Linked DNA regions of Homo sapiens. The protein of the gene in region 1 interacts with the protein of each later gene in a pairwise test. Each region holds a gene or a part of one and is shown on either strand. Other genes may lie near its edges. The genes, in order: KIF24, CEP97 and RANBP3L.

Evidence for each region.
Region 2: the proteins of KIF24 (region 1) and CEP97 interact in binary tests that used the Homo sapiens proteins (3 or more experiments, as listed by UniProt).
Region 3: the proteins of KIF24 (region 1) and RANBP3L interact in binary tests that used the Homo sapiens proteins (3 or more experiments, as listed by UniProt).

What each region holds. Positions count from the first base shown.
Region 1 is NC_000009.12:34,251,624-34,257,698, forward strand, and holds the end of KIF24 (kinesin-like protein KIF24), read right to left. Parts: coding exon 4,112-6,075; intron 3,543-4,111; coding exon 3,449-3,542; intron 2,898-3,448; coding exon 2,757-2,897; 3' UTR 757-2,756; downstream 1-756. UniProt on the Homo sapiens protein: Microtubule-dependent motor protein that acts as a negative regulator of ciliogenesis by mediating recruitment of CCP110 to mother centriole in cycling cells, leading to restrict nucleation of cilia at centrioles.
Region 2 is NC_000003.12:101,754,928-101,763,613, forward strand, and holds part of CEP97 (centrosomal protein of 97 kDa), read left to right. Parts: intron 1-502; coding exon 503-667; intron 668-2,135; coding exon 2,136-2,269; intron 2,270-2,706; coding exon 2,707-3,496; intron 3,497-7,557; coding exon 7,558-7,633; intron 7,634-8,686. UniProt on the Homo sapiens protein: Acts as a key negative regulator of ciliogenesis in collaboration with CCP110 by capping the mother centriole thereby preventing cilia formation. Required for recruitment of CCP110 to the centrosome.
Region 3 is NC_000005.10:36,298,180-36,307,283, reverse strand, and holds the start of RANBP3L (ran-binding protein 3-like), read left to right. Parts: upstream 1-5,381; 5' UTR 5,382-5,867; coding exon 5,868-5,958; intron 5,959-9,104. UniProt on the Homo sapiens protein: Nuclear export factor for BMP-specific SMAD1/5/8 that plays a critical role in terminating BMP signaling and regulating mesenchymal stem cell differentiation by blocking osteoblast differentiation to promote myogenic differention.

The DNA.
Region 1 (6,075 bases):
GGATTTTCTTTTGGGGGTTAGAAGGTCAGGTGTGGAGACTGCTCGCCAGTCTCTGTGAGCCTAGGCCCTGAGCTGGGGAGGTGGGGAAGATTCGGGCATGTGAGTGCCCCCAGAACTGTCCTGGCTCCTTCCGTATTAAACGCATTTGCATTTTGAGAAGTGTCCTTCCCACTTCAGCCCTCCGGAGAGACTACCCTAGTCTTTCTGGGGTGTTTATGTCCTCAGCTGAAGCCTGGCCTAGTTGCTGAGAGGGGCTGGGGAGATGGGGCGGGAGGGCCAGACTCAGTGCTGCTGTGGAGCTAGGTGCTTCCCCCTTCCCCTGAGACTGGTGGACTGAACTCCAGTCAAGTTGAGTTCAAGTGAAAGATTCTTCCAGGGTTTTATTTTTTCCCCTCCTAACAAAGTCTCATAGTGTTAACACTGGTTCTGCAATATCTCTGAGGTGCAAAGAATGCACTTTTCCCTATGGGGCCCAGAGTTTGCCTTTTCTGCCAGGCAGTCACCATGCTTCCCTACCCCAGCCTGTTTCTTTTGGCTTGGTTTGGACCACAGTCCTCTGCTACCCAGGGTTTTAGAGCCCCTGCTCTAGGAAACAGTTTAAGAAATCATTGGCCCCTTCCCAGCACATTGAATGGGTAAGCAGACAGGCCATGATTTAGTTGGCCAGCACTAACTCCACCTCTGTTCTCCTTGAACAGCTTCCCCTCCAGCCCACTGCTTTAGGATGACACAATGAATAACACCTAGTCATAGAAATCAGTCTCTCTGGTTTGTTTTGTATTATGTTGTACATCATTAAAGATCTAAATACAAAGGATATACAGTCTTGAATCTAAAATAATTTGCTAACTAACTATTTTGATTCTTCAGAGAGAACTACTAATAAAAATCTAAAAGGTATGTCTTGGTGTGATAACTTCTTTATTACCAAGGCTGTTTTATGGGAGTGGGGGGGCCATGTGGTGTATAAAGAGATTTCTTGCTTAGATTTGCTGGGGATAGAATAGGACCTAACCGTTTTCTATTTCGGAGCTTTCTTCCCACTTCAGACCTGTCCTCGTTTTTGGTTTGCAAAGGCAAGCCTAGACTGAGTCTTTTAAACCTGGCCCAGCTCCGTCTGTGGACCAAGGACGTAGGCCTTCCTGACTGTGGAGTTGGGATAGGCTGGGCCTTCAGGGGGATCACCCAGTAAAAGAGGAAGAAGCCCTTTTACTGTGAGCAGCAGGCATTTATGCATCATTTGCCACAAGCAGAGGATGGGATTTAAACTGTTTCACCAGCTCTCAGTGGTGCTGTTGTATATGATGATAGAATAGGGTTCATTCCTAAAGTAAGTAAGTTTTTGTCCTTGACCTTAATACTGTGCCATTGTCCCACTTGAGCTTTTGGCTAGACTGGGTCTTTGAAGGTTTTTAGTGATCATGTGAGGGAGGGGCCGCAGTGCCCTGCAGCCGGGAAGCACCAATAAGGATGCCCCCTGGCGGTCAGATGAGGCACTGTCAGGCTGACAAAGGGTGACTGGACCAGGCTGCTAGTGTCTCAAGAGAGCCATTTAACCCTCTTCTTGGCCTTTTAATTAAGCCCTCCTTTTAAAACCGTAAAAAGTTATCCTTTATCTGAAGGAAATAAAGGCTCACATAGTAATGGGCGTTCGGGCCAAGGCCGTGACTCATGAATCTCCATTTGACCCAGAGTGGCTTTAAAGTAATTGGCACCTGGAGGCTACTTTGTCTTCCCTGTCCTGAGCTGCTTCCTGCTAAAAAGATACACAGCAGGCAGAACTTGGCTGAAGGTTTGTGTGTGAATTCTGTTTCAGAGGCCTCAGACTGTTGAACAGAGCACTCTGTTCAACTGCCAAGGTTCCCAACACAGACCCCTGAGAGGCAGGGTGGCTGGGCAGGGTGAACTGGATGAAGGCCAGGCTAGGAGATGGACTATTCCATGAGGGGGCTGGGTAGTGAGGTGTCCCAGATAGGAGCCAGGAGCTGCCATGGAAGCATGAGAGTATCGGGCATTGTACAGAGGCCTTTCACCCGAGCAAAAGTCAGGAGAAAAATTGATGTGTGACACAGGCACCCTCTTCTGCCTCAACACTGGATTGCAGGAAGGGAAGGGAGCTGTAAATATAAGGCCTGTCTCACATCTGCTGCTGTCAGTGACACATCAAGTCAAGGTTTATGCTATTTACATTTTCAAAAACGCCTCTAAATCCCCAAATCAATCTCCAAGGGCTGATGGGGCAGAGCTCACCCCACCCCTGTCCCCCTAGCACCAATGGTTAAGTTTGGGCCAGTGTTTAGTCTTCTAAGTTAGGCACAGAATTCAGCTGGTGAAGCCTCTGGTCTCAGCATGTTGTCTTCTCTGTCTTGTGACCTCTGACCTCTAGGCTACCACTGACCACCCCATCCTCTGATCCCCAAACTTAGAAACTTCAGGGTTATTAGACCCAAATATATTCCCACAGGCAAGGGGTTAGTTAATCATATTCTCTAGGCACAAGGGAAAGGCATTAGGTTCTTCGGCCTGGCCCACCCTTGGAGGCACTCCTGTGCATGGAACTGAGGGACAGGGGCCTGTCCCTGAGGGAGAAGCTGGGACCTATCTGAAGCCACGTGGGGCTGGGGTGACGCTAGCATAGGCAGGACCAGCGTGTGGGTTCTGGTGTGTGCAGGGAGGACCTGGCAGAGGCTCCTCCAGCCTGAGAGCCCAGCACAGACTCCTGCAGGGCCCCCACCATCTCGGCACAGGGTCTGGCTCTAAGACGGCACTGTTCCCTCAGGGGCTGCGGTGGGCCCGTGGCAGGTGAGATAGAGCTGCAGCTGGCTCCTCAGACTCTGGATACACTTGGATTTCAGAACCATGATTTCATCCAGCTGGGTCACAAAATCTTCAAAATCCTGAGAAGGAAACAAGGGACGAATACAGCTTTTGCTCTTGCTGGCGCTCTGCCAGATCTGCTTTTTCAGTCCCTCCTCTGGCAGGAAAGTTTCAGAACCCAGGCCACTCTTCCAGCGGGAGAACATGTAGGATAGTTGCTATGGCACAGGGTGGGGCCTGCTGCTCTGCATTCGAGACACTTTCCAAGCAGAGGAGTATTTTGTAAGGCAGAAGGGTATTTGGTAGAAATACCTACGTGTGGTAGGCAGCAGACTGGTCACTGTTAGTCACAGGGAGGGGCCCCGACAAACCGCTAGGAAGGCAGAGCAGCTGAGGATAGAGGCTGGAAACATTTTAGCCTGGAAAAGGCGAGTGTTGCACCATCTCCCACCTGTACCTATACTCAAGATGTCTCAAAGGCGTGGCAAGAGGAGGTGTGAGGCCTCAGTTATGGTTAGTGTGTGCCAGGAGACCCTTTCCCCACACACAGCCACAGCAAACAAGGATGACCATCAAATTAGCTGCAGGCTAATTCCCAACAGCCTGTGAGTGTCCAGCCAGGGCTACTTACATTAGAAGCCAGCTGGCTCATCAGCGTCTCCTCCTTGAAGCCGAGCTCAGCCATTTCATCCAGCTGTTCCTGGTGTGCTCGGATGACCACCTGCCTGGGAACACCAGAGAGAACACTGTGATCTTCCTGGCCTCCCAGCCTCTCCTGGGTAGCTTTCTGGAGGTGATCTCATTTGTAAGCTGAGAGCTGCCTCTGCCGAAAATGGTCAAGGTTTTCACCAAGGCCAGCTTACCAACCAGCTCCCCCTCACCTGCTCTTTCTCAGGATTAGGTAAGGAATTACGGAGTACCAACGAGATACAGGGAGGGAGACAGGGGCTTCCCAAGTTGTCTCCTGCCTCCCCAGCTGTACTGAGGGGGCAGGGCTGGGTGCTGCTGCTCTTCCACAGGAGCTGCCCATTTCCCACAGCTTCCCTGCAGAAAGGCTCTCAAGGCTGTGACTGCAACTGGCATACTTGGCACAAGATGGAGCCTATTGCCTGGTCTGCTATCATTTCTACTTCCTGTGGAGGGCCCGGGACCAAAGCAGAGGGTTGGAGCTAGAAGCAGACTAGCTCACCTGCGTACCCCTGCATGGCTTCTCTTTGTCCATGACAAAACAGTAAGCTGGAGTGGAGGGTGGGTGCCAAAGGGGCTCAAGTCTTAGGGAAAGTGTCCAACTTACTGCGCTTGCTCCAGGGTGGGCTGACGGAGTGTCCCTGCAGTCTTGGGAGAGCAGCTGGGAACCAAGGGAGAACTTGGCCTTGCTAAGCACCTTGAGATCGGCCTGGGTTTGAGCCATGTGACATTTTCACTGTTGCAGGGCAACTTGATGGGGTCTGTGGACAAACCAAACTCCTGCCAACCAAGCCTTGTAGGATGTTTTCTCTCCTGGGCCCAGAGCTGGTCAGCCACATCACTACTTCCTGTTCGTGGGGTGAGTGTAGGTCCAGAATGGGGTACCCCCATATGTATGGTGGTGAAGGGCTTTCCTGGGAAACCCCAGGAGCCATCCAGCCCCGTCTCCTCTGCATCAGCATCATACTGCTCACTACCCATGTGTTCGTGGGAGAAAAGTACAGTCTCTCTGCTCTGGCAGGCCTCTCCTAGGTCTGCCTCCCTGCTGGGCAGCTTGTCAGCTGGGTGCTGACGGATGGGTGATGGGGACAGAGCTGGAAGATCACCACCAGGCTTATTATCAGGGGGAGATGAGGACAGCCACAGGTGCCTAGTTGCTGAAGACACTGGCAAGGCTGCCTCTTGATCACCAGATGGCACTGTGTGGCTCACAACTGGGCCCCCTGTGCTCTCTGCCACTAGACTGTGCGTAGCCCCATCCTGGACCAGCTGCTCCGAGGGAGGAGACCCTTCGTTGTCTGGGTTCTCCAGGAGGGACATGGTGAGGGGAGACATGAGTCCAGAAGCATATTCAGCATGCGTGCCTAACTGCCCCCTAGGATCCTCTCCTGGGACAGCATGACCGTTTTTCACAGTGCTGGTCACCTGGATTGGGCCGTCTGCACTGACTTCTCTCAGAGGTGTGGTGACTGTGTCTCTTTGGTCTGGGGATCCAGGAACTGCAACGTGGGACAATGAGATAGTGAAACCATCTTCCTCTGGGGATGGCAAGTTGCCCTCATTCTCCCCAGAAACCTCACTTTGGGAGGCATCCTTTCTGAGATCAAAGGAAGAGCCTCCACCTCTTTCCTGTCTATATATGAAATCTACCTGTGAACAGTATGGCTTCTCTGCCAGGCTGTCTCTGGGAGAAGGCCCTGAGGAAGTAGAGTTCTCTCTGCTCCAGTCCACGGGCCCCTTACTTGGGCTGCAGCTGTGATCGAGTGCTGCTCTTCTGTGGTTTATGGGGTCCCTGGAGTCCACCCAGCTTTTAGTTAGATCTTTCTTGTCACCTGTCCTGGGGCTAGAAAACAGACTCTGCTGTCTTTCTGCCACCTGCTTCTCAGGACCCTGTCCCCACGTCTGGTGCAGGAAGAATGAGTCTTCGCTATTCTCCAGGGTGTTCCTTTGCTTTGTGGCCCTCTGACTAGAGATGTGTGAAAAAGAATCTTCACTGAAATCACTGTCATCAAGTTCCTCTACTTGGGCTCCATCATGGTTTTCAGAGTAAGAGTGGAACAGAGGCGGAGTCTCATTCGTGAGCTGACCCTCTGGGGGCCTGTACTGGCGTAAAGACCTTTTCAGTGGTTGGTATTTTAACTTCTGTTGGAGGAGAGGTGGCTGTTGGAACTGCTGGTGATAGAAACGCAGATGTTCCTCCCTCTCCTTCTGATGTGGCGGGATGTTTGTCCAAGCTTCAGAGGCAGGCCTAGCAGGCGTGCCCCTCTGGCTGTCTTGACTGTACTCAGCCCTGTGGTGGGCGTTGCCAAAGGAGAGCTCAACTCGAGACACAAGCTGCTTCTGTACTGGCTGCACTGTCTGCACTTTCTTGCACTTGGTGGACAGCTTACCACGCACTAGGCCTTCTCCTGGGCCTGAGGCCCTGCTTTCCCACCCAAGGACAGTTTTGTTGCCCATTCGATTTTTCTCAGAGCACAATGGTGCTGACTCTTCTGGCTTTTTTTTGGCCACATGTCCAGAGCGCACAGTTCCTTTCACAGGGCTAGCATGAATGACCCACTCTTGTGAAGG
Region 2 (8,686 bases), on another chromosome or scaffold:
AGGTTGGTGGACTATAAGGTTGACAGGTATGATTATAGCGCACTATAGCCTCACACACCTGACCTCAAGTGATCCTCCCACCCCAACTCCTGAGTAGCTGAGATTACACATGCCACCATGCCCGGCTAGTTTTTTTTTTTCTTTTAACTGTCATTATGAACTAATGGATTCAAATGCAGTTCATCTATTTAGGCATTTCAGTGTGACAGAATGAATGGGGAGAATACTCATTGCTTCCTTGAAAATGATTTAAAAATATTTGGCACCATTAGTCCAAGCTCAATGGAAGTGCCCCTAAGCAAGAAAAAGGGTTTGAAACATTATTAGAATGGTGAATATGAGTCAGAATGATAGATTTTTTAAAAAAATTGAGTGAATTTTATTTATGAAAAACATACAATGGTGCTATAAAGGTAAGTTAACAAGGAAGATCATTGTTGCCTGACAATGTGTGTTGACTATTCTCATGCCATCTCCTCTTTTTTATGTTCCCCAATTCCAGTTTGAAAGCTGAATGGCTCTATAGTCAAGGCAAGGGGAGAGCATATCGGCCTGGCCAGCACATCCAGCTTGTCCAATATCTGGCTACAGTCTGCCCCCTCACTTCTACACTAGGTCTTCAAACTGCAGAGGATGCCAAACTAGAGAAGATTTTGAGCAAACAGAGGTAAGCCCATTTATTTCTAACAACTGATGAATTCACAAGTTAAAATACCTCTGAGTCTTTGCTATGGTGATAGTAAGCCTGAGGCAAGTGCTGCGGCCCACATTTCTGGACACTCAGTCCCCTTGTCACTGCAACAGTTCCTGCAGGGAAGCTGAATCGTGCACTGCAAACAGCCAAACAATATGGTATGGAGGAATAGAGGGGTTTTTTTGTTTTAAAGACAGGGTCTTGGTCTCTTGGTCTGTGAGTACAGCAGTGCAGTCATAGGTCACTGCAGTTGCAACTACAGGTGCATGCCACCATGGTTGGCTAATTTTTTGTAGAGATGAGGTCTCACTTTGTTCCTCAGTCTGATTTTAAACTCTTGGCTTCAAGCAGTTCTCCTGCTTCGGCCTCCTAAAGTGCTAGGATAATAGGTATGAGCTACTACACCAGGAAACGGGATAGGATTTTTAAAAAATATATTTGTTCTTTTTTTTTTTTTAAGACATAATATCACTCTGTTGCCCAGGCTGGAGTGCTGTGGTGTGATCTCAGCTCATTGCAACCTCCATCTCCCAGTTCAAATGATTCTCGGGTCTAAGCCTCCTGAGTAGCTGGGATTACAGGCATGCGCCACCACACCTAGCTAATATTTTATTTTTAGTAGAGATGGGTTTTTGCCATGTTAGCCAGGCTGGTCTTGAACTCCTAACCTCAGGTGATCTGCCCGCCTTGGCCTCCCAAAGTGCTGGGATTACAGTCATGAGCTACTGCGTCTGCCACCCCTCCCCCTTTTTTCTTTTTTGAGGCAGGAGCTCACTTTGTCACCCAGGTTGGAGTGCAGTGGTGTGATCTCAGCTCCTTGCATCTTCAGTCTCCTGGGCTCAAATGATCCTCCCTCTTCAGACCCCCTTCAGTCCGTGCCTGTAGCTGGGACTACAGGCACGCACCACCAAGCCTCGGCTAATTTTTTATATTTTTTGTAGAGATGGGGTTTCATCATGTTGCTCAGGCTGATCTTGAACTCCTGAGCTCCAGCGATCCACCTGCCTTGGCCTCCCAAAGTGCTGGGATTACAGGTGCGCGACACCGTGCCCGACCTATTTGTTCTTTAATGTAGGTGTTTCTTGTGGGTTTTTGAATACTTAAGAGGTATATCTGCCTTCAAAGGGTACAGTGAAAAAAAAGAGAAAAAGTATTGCCAGAAGCATTTAATATTTACTTTCTTTATCAGAGATCCTGCCTTTAAATGTTTTTGTATGTGTGTATGTGTGCATAGTAGGGTCTGTCTTTGCAATTACAAAATAAGCTTCTTAACTTTCTTTATCCAGTGCTTTCAAATGAGGATTTATAATTTGGCATTAATTAAAAGTACCTACTTTGAGAACTTGTAAACTTCTGCCTTTTTGACATTGTTACCTAGGAAGCAGAAAATCTTTCTTTTTTTGGTTTGTGTTAAATTAGACCAGGTATTATTGATTTTTAGGTTTCACCAGAGGCAGTTGATGAACCAAAGCCAAAATGAAGAGTTGTCTCCTCTTGTTCCTGTTGAAACAAGGGCATCCCTTATTCCTGAGCATTCAAGCCCTGTTCAAGATTGCCAGATATCCCAGGAAAGTGGTAAGAAATGAATTTATCTCTGATCCCTTTTCTCCAAGTTGTTTAATTTGTCGGGTATCATAAAGCAGAAAAAGGTGCATATTTTCATAATTTTTTGTTAGTTTACTAACTTCAGTAATCATTTAGATCTTATACATATCTATGTATAAACACACCTATATATGTATGTATATTATAACTGCTATATTTCTAATTTTAAGAAACATTTCAAGGACTACTACCTTTTATATAGACCTGATGCTTTGATTATTCTTATGATTATCACAAGAATTCATTTTCTTAAAAATGTTTGGTTTGATGTTTTCGGCATATTGGAAGAAGTCACTGAGGGGATTTTTTTGCATTTTACTCTATTTCAAGGAATAGATTTCATTAAAGGGACATAACTAAAATGTAAACATTTAGTGGTTTAAATGATACTCTGTTGATTCTTCTAGAACCCGTCATTCAAGTGAATTCTTGGGTTGGGATAAACAGTAATGATGATCAGTTATTTGCGGTTAAGAATAATTTTCCAGCCTCTGTACACACTACGAGATATTCTCGAAATGATCTGCACCTGGAAGACATACAGACGGATGAGGACAAGTTAAACTGTAGTCTTCTCTCTTCAGAGTCTACTTTTATGCCAGTTGCATCAGGACTGTCTCCACTATCACCTACAGTTGAGCTGAGGCTGCAGGGCATTAACTTGGGCCTAGAAGATGATGGTGTTGCAGATGAATCTGTGAAAGGGCTGGAAAGCCAGGTGTTGGATAAGGAAGAGGAACAGCCTTTATGGGCTGCAAATGAGAATTCTGTTCAAATGATGAGAAGTGAAATCAATACAGAGGTAAATGAGAAAGCTGGACTATTACCTTGTCCTGAGCCAACAATAATCAGTGCTATCTTGAAGGATGATAACCACAGTCTTACATTTTTTCCTGAGTCAACTGAGCAGAAACAATCAGACATAAAGAAACCAGAAAATACACAACCAGAAAATAAAGAAACCATATCTCAAGCAACTTCAGAGAAACTTCCCATGATTTTAACCCAGAGATCTGTTGCTTTGGGACAAGACAAAGTTGCCCTTCAGAAATTAAATGATGCAGCCACCAAGCTTCAGGCCTGTTGGCGGGGATTTTATGCCAGGAACTACAACCCTCAAGCCAAAGATGTGCGTTACGAAATCCGGCTACGCAGAATGCAAGAGCACATTGTCTGCTTAACTGATGAAATAAGGAGGTGGGTCAGAAGTCCTTTTGATGCACTGTTTTGTTGGTTTGAGGGTGTTAGATTCTTATAGTTGATTCAGAACACTGTGCTTCTGTGATTATAACACTTTTCACACAATGTAGCCACTGTTGCTTTGGTTGTCTCCTACAGTGTACCGAAAGCATCTGGAGAGCAGACACTATCTGCTCTATCTCCTCATCTCCATCCCCAGCAAAGCACTTGATACATAGATGCAGTGTAGTAATAAATGTTCAATGAACGTGAGCTTTATAGGGATCTATAATTCTAAACATAGAAAGGTACAGAAAACATTGAAAAACCAAGTATAAAAATGAGAAGATGATGAAGTCTACATGGAATTCAGTACATGACATAAGAAATAAAGAAAATAGCAGGGATTCAGAAGGGGCTAAAATTCTATATGACTACAATAGGAATTATTCCTTAATCCCATGGCTCGTATGTTTTACTGACTGCTAGCCCAGGAAAGTTAGGATTTCATTAATATTGCAACTAGTAATATTTACTGGTATTATCAGGTAGAAGAGAAAGAGGCAGCAAAGGATACTGAGAAGGGACAGCCAGAGTGGTAGGAAAACTAGGAGAGTTCCACCTTCAACAGGAGCAAGTGTTTCAGGAGAGATGAGAGGTGCCACAGAGAGGACACAGGCATTAAACTTGGCAGTTGGAGGCTATTGGTGACTGTGTTGGTGATTCTCCAGACTATCCTCAGGTTGGATGATTTGCTAAAAGGACTCACAGAACTTGGGAAAATACTATTCTGTTCGTCATTATGGTTCATTACAGCAAAAGGATACAGATTAGAATCAGTAAAGAAAAAAGGTGCCTAGGGCAGAGTCTAGGAGACATGAGGTGCAAGCTTCCAGTTGTTCTCTTTCAGTGGAGTTGTACAGACAGGGCTTAATTTTCTCAGCAATGATGTATGATAACACATATGAAGTATTGCCAACTGACGAAAGTTACCTCATCTTTGGTGTCCAGGGTTTTTATTGTGGGCCAGTCACATAGGTATTGAGTACCCATGTAACTGATCTTAACTATTTACACCTCAGACCACATAGAGGTCACACTGATACTCCATGGCCCAGGACCCAGGACCCCAGGCGAACAAAACAGATGTTGACTAGAAATCATTGATTGCCTAAACTATCTGATGTGACCAAGACCCCAGGTGTATAAAGATATTCTTTTTCAGTCAGGATATTCCAAGGGCTTGGAGATTATCTCCCAGGAGTCAGTCAAGGGCCAGTCTTATCTTTGCAATGTACAGTGTTTGAACATCCCCATCCTGCTGAGTTAACTCTTTACTGCACAGTGACCTTCCCAAGAGCAGCTTCAGTGGTGTAGAGGGATGAAGGCCATTTTGGAATGGGTTGAATAGTGAATGAGAGGTAAAGAGTTTGAAGGATGAGTGTAGCCAATTCTTGGAAAGAGTTGTTTTGAGGAAAACAAGAGAAAAGAGAGTTAAGTGGTGTCTGGAGGAGAATCTAGATTAAAGGAACATTCTCTTTTGTAGATGAGAGATATAGAGTTTGTTCATGTGTTGATGGAATGAATAAATAAGGAGGGAAAAACTGATGGTGCAGCAAAAAAAAAAAAAAAAAAAAAAAAGAGGAAGAGCAGGATTGCAGTTCTTGAGAAGGTAAGAGAGGAAGAAATGTAGTGTCGAAGTAGAGGAAGTGGCCTGAAATGGGAGCAGGAGCAGGTAAGGTGGTAGGTTTGATGGTGGGAGATGGGAAAAAGTCCTGTCTGATGCTGCTTCTTTTTCAATAATGTATAAGATGTGGTCAACACCTGAAAATGAGGAGAGGGTGAAGGAGGTGTAAGGAGAGAAGTATGAGGTGTGAGGTAGTTATCTTAAACATGACCTTATGAGGAAAATGGAGGAGGGTTGCTGGACAATGTGAGAAAATGCTTAAAAGTGCAAAACAATAGGTCAGGTTGTATGATTTTCATCAGCAATTCTTAGCTGCTCTGGTCTGATTCAGGCATGGTTAATTTGGTTCAGCCAGGAATGATTTTTTTTCCTAGGTGATATTGTAGAGAGAGCAGGGGAAGGGCAAGAGAGCTGAAGATATTTGAGAGGGAGTAATAATGATAGATCTTAGATTTTATATGTTTTTTGAGATGGGGTCTTGCCCTCTTGCTGAGGCTGGAGTGTAGTGGCGTGATCATAGCTCACTGTAATCTTGAACTCCTGGGTTCAAGTGATTCTCCCACTTGAGGCTCCCAAGTAGCTGGGACTATAGGCATGCACCACCATGCCCAGCTAATTAAAAAAAATTTTTTTAAAGAGATGAAGTCTATGTTGCCCATCTGGTCTTGAACTCCTGGCCTCAAGCAGTCCTCCTGCCTCAGCCTCCTAAAGTTCTGGGATTACAGGTGTGAATTACCTTGCTGACTGGAATTTTATTTTTATTTTTTATCTAAAAAAATTTTTTTTTGAGATGGAGTCTTGCTCTTGTCACCCAGGCTGGAGTGCAATGGTGCGATCTCAGCTCATTGCAACCTCTGCCTCCCAGGTTCAGGTGATCCTCCTGCCTCAGCCTCCCGAGTAGCTGGGATTACAGGCACCTGCCACATGCCCAGCTAATTTTTTTTTTGCATTTTTAGTAAAGACAGGGTTTCACCATGTAGGCCAGGCTGGTCTCAAACTCCTGACCTCAGGTGATCCTCCTGCCTGGGCCTCCCAAAGTGCTGGGATTACAGGTGTGAGCCACTGTGCCCAGGCTGGCTGGAATTTTAAATGAGGTAAAAGGGAAGTGAAGGCAGGGGGGAAGGATCATTGGACTGAAGGTCTAGATTGTTGCAGTGGGGTACAACAGCAAGTGAACTGGGAGGATAGGAAGTAGTGGTTGGTGTTGGGTGCTTAGAACCATTTCTGAAAGTAGTGTAGTCAAAATGATTTGGTCTAGGGTGAGACTATGAGAATGGGTGACTGACATGGGGTGGATTATTGTTAGAGCATCCATGTGAATGTTGAGGTCTCCAAAAACGATGACAGGTATGGGGCAAAGAGAAAGCCTGGTGCTGAGACTTCATTGAATGGGAGCAGATGGTGGGAGGTCAGTACTTGACAACGAATTTTGGGAAATTTAGCAGGATGGCAGGAGTTAAAGGAGGGAGATGAAGAATCATTTGAAAACAATAGTGAGAAGCAATTTTTGAACCCTGATGTGTGACAGGGAAAAATAGCTTCCACTTCAGAGGGCTATAGTGCTCTCAGAAGTGGGTCTGCTTTGGACAAGGAAAAGTTCAGAGAGAGATGGAGTATATAAGGGAGTTTGCTAATTATAATTCAGGAGTTCTAGATGGCACAGGAGAAAGGCTTGGGGGGCTAGAGAAAGTGGAGAATTGGGTCAGAGGTGTGGAACAAAATGGTCTTGACAGTTTGGGTGATAATGGATCACTAAAGGAGGAGCCTTAGGTTTGTGATAGGCCTAAGTATGGAGAGAACAGCAGTGAGCCCAGACCTCAGACTTTGATGAATGAATGAGGAATAATGGATGGGAGGTCTCTTGTTAGCAAGGAGTAGGTCGGAGACCTGGGGAAACAGAATAGTGAAGTTTGATGGGATTAGTCTTTAGCAGAGGGTGTTTCAAGCTGGATCACGAGTACTTAAATGTGACCCTTAATTGTTTTGGAGGCTTTGGATAGCCACTCCTTTTTTGCACTTTCTGTTCCTTTGGTTTGTTTGGCTGAGAAATTGAAGCCAGACAAAGAGCCATTTAACATTTTATTTTATTTCTTATTACTGGAAATACTTTGTAGAACTAATACCTGTATTTCAGTCATATCTCCTTTGGCTTCTACTTTGAGTCACAGTTCAAAATTAAGGTTTATGATGTCACTTATAAAACTGTTCCATTTTGATTCTGAGGTTAAAAAAATAAAAATAAAATAAGGTTTTAATTTAGATATTCTAAAAGTGGGAAAGACAACTATTAGATTATTAATCTCTTTACAATGCATGTGTTTATGAGTTGTAACAGGAAGTCTGAGTCAAAGCACCCTTCCTTATGTCAATAATGTGTTTTGAATTATTGTAGATTACGAAAAGAAAGAGATGAAGAACGTATTAAAAAATTTGTACAAGAAGAAGCTTTCAGATTCCTTTGGAACCAGGTAAACTCCCTCCTGCTGATTTACCTCATATATGATCAAATACAGATTCTATATTCATTGAGATAATCATAGAGTACTCAGGTGTATTAAGCACTCTTGTTCAAGGTTAAGGGTATGGCTTGTGTTCTTCGCCACTAACTGTGAACTAGGACAGTGAATTTTCTTGCATTTTATTTAATCTGAAGAAAAATATTCTGACAATTTTGACAAGAAAAACAAAATAGTATAAAGCAGGAGGAAAGTGGCTTAACTGAAGGCTGTTAGAGCTTTCCAATAGATACAACAACCCCAATTTGAAATTTCATGTAGCTATCGATCTGTCTTTTGGGAATATTTGAATGAATTGTGATTAAGATGGTATATGACTACAATATGCATGTCCTAAAAAGTATTCATAACTGTATAGGAGAGTATTTGAATCCTATAATAGCACACTTTAGGGACAGTTTAGGCAGTTGGTTTTACTAGCATTGTATCACATCAAATACTTCTTGATGATAATTTCTTGAAAATATTTTAATAAAATTTTCATTTCTTCTTTTTTATAGAAATGGGGTCTTGCCATATTGCCCAGGCCGGTCTCAAACTTCTGGGCTCAAGCAGTCTTCCCTCCTCAGCCTCCCAAAGTGAGCCACATCACCTGGCCAAATTTGTTATAATAGGATTTGACCTATAAAATGAAAAAATAATTATTGATTTGTAAAGTTTTGTAGTTACCAACAATAGAGGAATGGTTAAATTATAGAATAATAATACTGTGGAATACCATGGAATAGTTAAAAAAAATAAGGTAATGGTATTCACCAACATGGAAAGATCTCCAAAATAATACTGTTTAGTAAAAAAAAAAAACAGCACTAGCGCATTACAGCCTTGAACTCCTCAAGTGATCCTTCTGCTGCAACCTCCCAAGCAGCTGGGACTACAGGCACACACCAGTGTGCTCAGCTTCCCTGTATATTTGAAAATACGACCTAGAAAAAAGTCTGGAAGGATATGCATCAAGTTGCTGTCAGTAATTACCTTGGGCGGGGGGTCAAAGGGAAACTAAAA
Region 3 (9,104 bases), on another chromosome or scaffold:
AGAAGGATGTAGAAAAGAATAGCTACACAGTTGAGAAGGAAGAAGTAAAATGACGGTTTGGTTTTCTTTAAATGAGTGCATCATCCTCCCATAAGGTTCAGCCTTCTTCCTCTCTCATGGAGGTCTCTGAACTTGATGGTCATGCACCCCTAGCAACAACAAATGCTTGAGAATATACCCCGATGTGGGTTTGTTTGTATGTTTATAAATCGTATTCATGTAGTACTGCCACACTAATTTGAATGTTAACATTTCAAAATATTTTGTGTGTGAATTGTATAATGTAAAAAGTAAAAAATTAGGAAAAAAATAAAGAGTTTCTGTACACACTCTGATAAATCTAGCACATTGCCTGTTCCTTGTACCCTTTCAATCAGGTTCACTAAAAGTAATTATATTTTAAAGTGCTTTATCACAAAAATTGTAAAAATATGCAAAATTAGACATGAAAGCATTATAAATCCCCATGCACTCATGACTCAGTTTTAATAATTATCTGTTTATGGCCAAATTTATTTCATCTCTATCTCCCCAAATCTCACTCTCCTAGGCTATTTTGAAGCAAATCTCAGATATAGAATAATTTTATTTTTAATACATCAAAATTACATTATAGTCCGCCTAATTAATATAAAAGAAAATCAGTGAAAGAAGAAATGCAAAGAAAAAAGGAAAGAAGGAAGGAAGAAAAGAAAGAAGCAAATAACCAATAAACCAACTAAAAAGGAAAGAAGAAATTATGAGGAAGGGAGTGAGAAACATGGTTTGCTATTATTTTATTCCTGTAAATGCCAATTCAAATGAAGTAGTAAAATTTTGATTTGGTGCAAGCTAATTTGCTTTATTTTGAAACTGATCCCAGTTAGTGCATATTTACCTTCAAAGAGTTAAGTTGTGCTGTAAACCCATTGATTCCAATTCCCAGGTGCTTCAAACACTTCTAGATGGAATTCAGACTCTGTGGGATCATCTGTTCCTACCCAGAGGGTGGTCATTATAGAACCAGAACCACCTTACTCTAGGTTTCCTTGTCACTAAAACAAACAAATAAAATAAAATCTGGCATTTTTCTGACCTATGGTTTTATTTCGTTTTGTTTTCACTGTAGCTAAAACACTTCAATAAAGATAGAAAAATGTAAAACTTCAGAAAGTTAAATACCAGCACATAGCAGTAATCACATTTCACTTACAGGAGGATAATCAGGTAACTTTCCTCCAACCTCAGATACAGACAATCATCTTCTAAGCTCACAAATACAGGACCCCATTCTTGTGGGCACTGGATGAAAAGACATGGGTTTATCTTGTGCCAAGGCCAAGGCTATTTTAATATTAACTGACCTTGGACTCTGCCGACCTCCAGAGGGAGCCCTGAGGCAGCCAAATCTAAGGCTCAGCAGCAAAAGGGCCCAAATTAGTCTGAACTGCCAACGCAATGTTTATGTAGTGAGGCAATATTTATGATAAACATGACCCAAATGTTGGTGTTCAATGGGTTAAAGATCAATTGTAGCAATTTCAGGATAGAGAGCAGCTTTGATAAGTAAGCAGTTTGGTGCTATGCCAGTGTAGTCTCTTGAATCCACGGACAGGAGCAAGTATTCAAGTGAAACTATCTCTACCATTATTTGTGTTTCCTATGTTTTTACAGATGGCAGTTATGGGAATCCAGCCAACAGTGCCACCTGGGAAACTCTATGAGCTAAACACTATAGTACATTGGGGTAATAACATGGCTCTGAATAGCCACGAAAGCCTACCTTTGTGGAGGCTTTACAATATACACCATACATAAGCCACTGTGAGATCCTGAAACTCAACATTCTCATCTATAATATATCTGATTGTGTATTAAGGAAGAGTAATCTGGAAACAAATCAACCACTGCTTGATATAAAGGAGCAGGGGATCTGTTTTTTAAAATCAACAGAAAATCTAAAATCTTGACACTAATTCATCAGCCTTCAACTATAATGATCATTTAATAATTCCTGTAGTACTTTGGGGATCATAATGAGGCTAATCCCAGCCACAGTTTTCATGTTTGCCTGCTGATAGGGGTCTTTAAACTTATTCTCTAAGAATGAGAGTGATAAATTCAATAATATTGCTTTTTATTTATATAGCACCTATCATTCCAAGCAGTCCAAAGGCCTTCAAATAATAGATATACTTGCAGACTAGACATCACAAATGCTTTTGAAACATGGCAGGTTATTAACTAAACAAGTAACTCACTTGTGGACTAATTTTAAATGCATGTGTCCTTGCTTTTTGAATATGGTAACTGAGAAAAGTAAACCCTCCTGTAAACCTAATACCATTTAGCTTGTTCAGCCACACACTGTGCTTTTTGAGGTATAAATTCTAGCAATAAAATATCAATTTTTTGAAGTATCGACCCCCAAAGTGCCAGCTGGTATGATTGATTATCTGTGATGCGCCATTTCACTCTACTCTTCCGGAAGTACAAAGACACAGGTTAAGCAGAGAAGATATGGCAGATAAGGAAAACCCCAGGAAAAGGAAACCAGTGGTATCCTTTTGTGGGGATCACAGAGACTTGATAAGGGAAGAAGTTTGGCCTTTATAGGATTCAAATTCATTTTTAATCAATTGTAAGTAAAAATGCCAAAGATGATTCACCTCTTTCTTGACCCAGCCAGACTTCTGCAATCTGATTTCTTGTTTTCATTTATGCAAAAAAAAGGAACAATATGCCCACTGTGAACTAATTTGGTGATGTTTCTGGAAAGTAAGTGGGGAAAGGGGGAAGCAAAGTAGTCCCCCATCCCACTGTAGCTGATATATCTGAGGTTATCTTATGTACTCCTGTAACGTGCTGCTTTCTGCCATGCTGGATGATTTCCAGTGGAAACTGGTAAATCAAACCAGAGACTCCTTCGAGAACAGCAATGGAACTTAACAGGCAGTGTAGGAACCCAGGATTCCCTTGACTCAGCTAATCCCTCACAAGGCCACTGCCTGGGACTGCCTCGTTGATGCACGAAAGAGGAACCAGTAGCATTCCTTTGTATCCTCCCTGTCCCCTTACGTTGTGGCACTTGAAATTACTGTTTAAGGAGGGTTTGGTTTCTTCGGCCCTCAAGAAAGATGTAATGAATGAAATAGTGGAACAAACCAGCTCCGTTTAAGCAGATAATGCTTGTTTATTTAGACTAGAGGACTTATAAAAATATATAGATTCCAGATTGCACCTTAGGCATCAGACTGTGCAGTTGGGGCTCGGGAATCTACATCTTTACAATATGGCCTAGGTAATTATGATTCTTAGCTAAGTTTGAAAACTGAGGGACTAGATTTTCAAATATACCCCTAAATCCTACCCAGATTTTAGTTTTAAATCTATTTCTTTCTCCTTAGGCTCTAGTCAGAGACAAAGTAGGATACTCCTCCCTTTCCCAGGCCTTTATATCCATAGAATGAGTGTTGAATAATTTATCCCATTGCTTAGCAAACATTTGTTTCATATGCTAAATGAAGACACAAACCCAGAAATGTTAAGTGGCTGGGTCAAGGTTGCACTGTATATGAATGAGAACACCATGGCAAGAAAGCTGGATGTCTTAGCCTCCATGGCCAGATGACCACCCTTTTTTTTTCTCTTTTTTTCCTGAGTAAGAAAAATGGAGGCATCTAGGGGGCTTCCTTGAAAAAATCAGACATAAATTAGGGTAAGTGTAGATGTTCATCTCCAAGCAACATTTCTCTCTGAGATGAACCTATAGATTAAAAAAGACTTGAGAAACATATCAACCAAATACAATGTGTGGACCTTTGGGTCCCAATTTGCAAAAAATGTAAAGATAAAAAAGTTTATGAGACAATCAGGAAAATAAGAACACTGTGTGGATGCTTAATTACATCAAATAATCATATTTAATTGTTATGTGCGTGACTATCTTATTATGGTTATCTATTTTTAAATCCTCACATTTTAGAAATATACACTGAAATATTTATTAATGCAATGATGTCTGGATGCTTCAACTCCAGTGGTGTAATAAGGGGGAGAACAGCTATAATGAAACACATAGTTTTAAGACACGATTGTCTATGAGTTGATAATATTGAAGCCAAGTGATGAGTATGCAGGGCTTATTGTGCTATTCTCTCCTATTCATGTATTTTTAAATTTTTTCATCATAAAACATTTTAAATGTATTTCTCAAAAGGGCTGGCTTACAGTTTTGTAGGTTATTTAACTTACCTGTATAATAATATGCTTATTAGTGAGGTACATAACTTGATAGAATAACAATAACTTTACATATTCAGGAAAAATCACCTTGTCTCTCCACCATGGCTTTTGTGGAAGATGAGATGAATAGCAGACATTTAAAGTAGAAACTATGACTCTCCAATAACAAGACTCTCTTTCAAAGTAGCACAACACTTCTGTCATCTGTTACACTGTGATTAGCCTAAAACTGCAGTAGATAGACTACTGAAACAATTAAAGCATTCAAGAATTATAAAAGATCAATCACCTACTTCATAAAAATTTTCATAAACCAGACTATACTTGGGGAATTGTTAATTGCCTCAAAGTAAAATGAGGGCAGCCACCCAGATCTGGTTAGGAGGTAAATTCATTACAGTGTCAAGTTTAACACCAATTTCCAAATGCACATAAGAAGCTGCAGAGTCCAGACTTCGAGGCTAAACAGCTCTGCCTTTCTCCTTAGTCCTGCCCACTACCTTCTTTCTGAATCTGCGAAGAGCTGTGACTCTTGAAGGGCAGGACCTACCAGCATTCATTATGACTTCAGTTATGGCAAGCTCTCAAGTTAAATTAATGGTGTTTGGGGTTTATGTTTCCAAACAGTAAGGAAATAGCCAACGAGTAAAACTGGAAATTACTTTCTCCTATGACCTAGAAGTAGCAATAAGAACTCTAAGTGGGAAACAGAAATAGGACTCTGGAAAGATAATGTTTTGTGTGTTTATTTTTCTTCCAGAACTCCAAATAGTTGCCTTGGCAGGAAGGCTGCCCTCTAACTGCTCCCTTCCGAAGACTAGGAGGTGTTTACAGAAATTGAAAGTTCCAGCAGTACATTTCCATGAGCTCATTACCAGTTCCATTTATACCTTTTAGATTTCACATGCACAAATGAATGTCCTTGCAGTATAAACTCCTGCTTTCAGCTTGCATTTTAATTACAAACAAAGTAGCAGAAATCAGGTACTCAGTTACTGTAACATAAGGGCAGGGCATCTTTAGAATCTGTGCTTTGTTCACTATTATTCAAAGCAGCTCCAATGCCCGTCTTGCCTGCCTCTTTATGCTAATCATCCTAGCCCACTTTGCTCCTCCTCCTTCCAGAGTCCCTTAAGAACTGTACACTTTCAGCTGTCACAGAGGGTAACTCAGATCAGGCTTAGAAATCACTTGACTTAACTCAGCAGCACTTTTTCTTTTCTTTGTGTCTGTATTATTTTAGCAGCCTTCTCTAAATACTGGAGGCATTGGATTTCATGTCGCCAAAAGGAATTTAAAAATGACAAAAGTGTAATCTGTTAGAAATAGTTAATTTGTAGAATTTTACTCTATAAGGAGGTTTAGTTTCAATTTGTTTTGAAATGAAGGAATTAAGTTGTGTTTTTAACCAAATGAATTGGCATCTTTATATTTAGGAGAAGTAACATTGGTGATTATTTATTTCAAGAATCATGACTGGAAAAAGCTTGGAAGTTTAGTAGAGGAGTATATGTTGTACATGCAAAGACAAGATCTGCATGAATCTATGTATTTCTGGGTGTCTGGTGAAGGCCACTTTAGGTGACTGGCCAGAGAAGGAGGTGCCCTAGTGATCCTTGAGTCACAGCCATACTGCTAGGACCATGACTACCATACCAAGAAAAGGCAGCAGCCACCTGCCTGGCAGTTTGCACACCTGTAAACTGAAGCTGCAGGAGGACCGGCGACAGCAAGGTGAGTCCGTCCAGCTCATGAGTTGCATATTCTGTGACCTTCTGTGCATTTGCATTCCAGGAAGAATGGTGGGCTGGTGAAGGACCCGGGGAAGCTCTGACATAATAGTGATGCATAAGGGTGGGTTAACTTGGATTCACTATTGATTTTTAGAGGACTATGGAAGACTGTCAAGAATGCATATTCCTTGGAGCTGTCATTCTGAAACTTACATGCTTAAACTTCTAGCCACTGTGTTTTTTAGAGTATGCTAGATTTTGTCTAATTCAAAACACCCATCTGAGCAAGGCTGAGTCAGCTACAAGGGGGATTTCAGCTGAGAGTAGCTTTAAGTTAGCCTGGAGCTTTCTCTACCATAGTACCACTGGTGGGACACTTTTTTCACTTTGTTTAAGCCTAAGTTTGTCTGGATCTCTGGCTCATTCATTGTGGGAAAAATAAATATATTCTTGACTCTTTCCTTTTTATGGTCCAGGGACATCTGGAGACAGTCAGGGAAAAGTGTCACATTTCACTTGCTGGGCACTCATTCAAACTAAACTATCTACCTCCCAGCCATTTTCACCATCAGTCTTTTTAAATTTTCAAATCCACTCTCCAGCCAGCTGAGTTAGTGTCAGATGGTTGACATGAATAGACAAGATGATCCCTCCAATCCACCCTGTCAGGGACAGCAAATGACACTTGTGGGAAAGGCTGGGTCTCTCATGGATGACATCATCACTCCACAGAGGTTAAGGATTCACCAGACACTTCTAACTTCTCCTCAATAACCTAGGATAGATCTTTTTATGTGTAGGTCTAGGCAATGAGCTCTTTAATTATTTTTCTGTAGACGCAGTTTTAGATTTCAGTGGTGTGGAGAGTGTTGGCTAAAGGGCCAAAACCTCCCATTTCCAAGATGGAATCTGTGTGCTAACAGTCACATGAATGTGTCAGGCCACCTCTCTGCATCGGTTCCTGGAGCTGTATAACATGACTTCATGCTCTACAAGGCTTAGCATAGTGTCGGCAGAAAATACTTCATGGTAAATGAAAACAATGTGAACTTTTAGACCATGCTTTACTACTAGTGCTCAAATAAATTTTGAACCAAGTACCCTAGAATGTAAAGTCCTGGAATGTGTCAGGGTTAAGGCATAGCACTGTAAAATGCTCTTGCTTCTCTGTTAGTAAACAATTCTAGTTTATCAGAGGTTTTTGTTTTCTGTTGACTTTGTATGAAATGTTAAAGTGACTTCCCCCCACTTCAATTGCTAATATGATAATTTTAATAGAAAATTTGGTGGGGGTGAGCCTAAAGAAGTCACCTGTAACCCCACCACCCAAAGATAATTGCTATTAACATTTTAATGTATAAACTTCTAGACTTTTCTTCTATGCACTTGTATGGATTATTCCTTTGCTTGCTTTTTAAACAATATAGACTTGTTCTGGATACTTTTGTAAACAGTGTTTTGTAAACTGCTTTTTAATTTAATGACAGAGGATGAACAAATTTCCAGGTCATTAAATATTCTTCTACAACCTTATTTTTAACAGTTGCACACTGTTCCTTTATATGGATGTAGCAAAATTCCCTTAGGCAATTCTCTACTGTTAGATATATTATTTATTTCTAATATTTTAACTATTATAATTAACACTGGACTGCACCTAAACTAATGAATAGATCTTTGCACTGATATGGGATTATTTTCTTCGCATAAATTCTTAGAAGTGAAATTGTGGAGTCAAAGGATTATACATTCTTAAAAATTGTTTTTGGCCAAGTGACCCTCCTATCAGCAGTGTTGGGGTATGTTCTCAGTAATACTATTATTTTTTAAACTCCTTCTCAATTTTATAGGTGAAAAATAATACCCCACTATTGTTTTAAGCCAGGCTATCCTGAAGATCTCTCCTTTACTGGCTGTATTAATCAAAGTTCTCTAGAGGGACAGAACTAATAGGATATATACACACACACACACACACACACACACACACATATATGTATGTGTATATATATACAGATATACGTATGTGTATATATGTGTGTATATGTATATAAAGATGAGTTTATTAAGTATTAACTTACACAGTCACAAGGTCCCACAATAGGCTGTCTGCAAACTGAGGAGCAAGGAGAGCCAGTCTGACTCCCAAAACTGAAGAACTTGGAATCCAATGTTCAAGGACAAATAGCAAGAGAGAAAGATGTAGGCTGGGAGGCTAGGCCAGTCACCTTTTCACGTTTTTTTGCCTGCTTTGTATTTGCTGGCAGCTGATTAGATTGTGCCCACTAGATTAAGGGTGGATCTGCCTTCCCCAGCCCAGTGACTTAAATGCTAATCTCTTTTGGCAACGCCCTCACAGACACACCCAGGATCAATACTTTGTATCCTTCAATCCAATCAAGTTGACACTCAGCATGAACCATCACACTGGCAATATCCAGAGAAGCCTGGAAATAATCACTATGATGACATACTTCCCAAAATACCCACAAGACTGGTCTTCTTTCTCAGACTTAGCTTTTTGCCTAGAATGTTTTGAAAGCAAGCATATTCTTCCACACCCAAGTCTCAAAATATCTGCCCACATAAGCCACAATCCATAAAGTTGTGAAGCATGCTAATGCAGTCCAGACTGGCCATTGATTGCTGCAAGAAATATCATCTAGTGATTTGAGCTGGGTAGTATTTGCTGTGTTGCTAAATTGCATTCCAGTTACTGTCCTGGAGTTTTAAAGTATTCATTCAGAGCAGTGGCCCTGCTTTTTCCTCCAAGCTATTTTTGCACCTTGCTATTATGTGAAGTTCAGCAAAGGTCCCAGGAAGCAAAGCCATTTGTTTTAGAGAGTGAGGTCTGGCTTTATTCATGGAATCATCCTGGGTTCACGGCTTTGGCCTTTCCCCAGCCAGCCTAAAGTTCTGCCTCTATTATTTAGCATACAGACTATGATTAATTGACATTCGACACTTCTGTAGGCGTGACTAGCTTCAACACATACATATTTTCTTTTCCTTTTTTTTTTTTTTTTTAAGATGGAGTCTCACTCTGTCACCCAGGCTGGAGTGCAGTGGCATGATCTCGGCTCACTGCAACCTCTGCCTCCCGGGTTCAAGTGATTCTTCTGCCTCCGTCTCCTGAGTAGCTCGGAC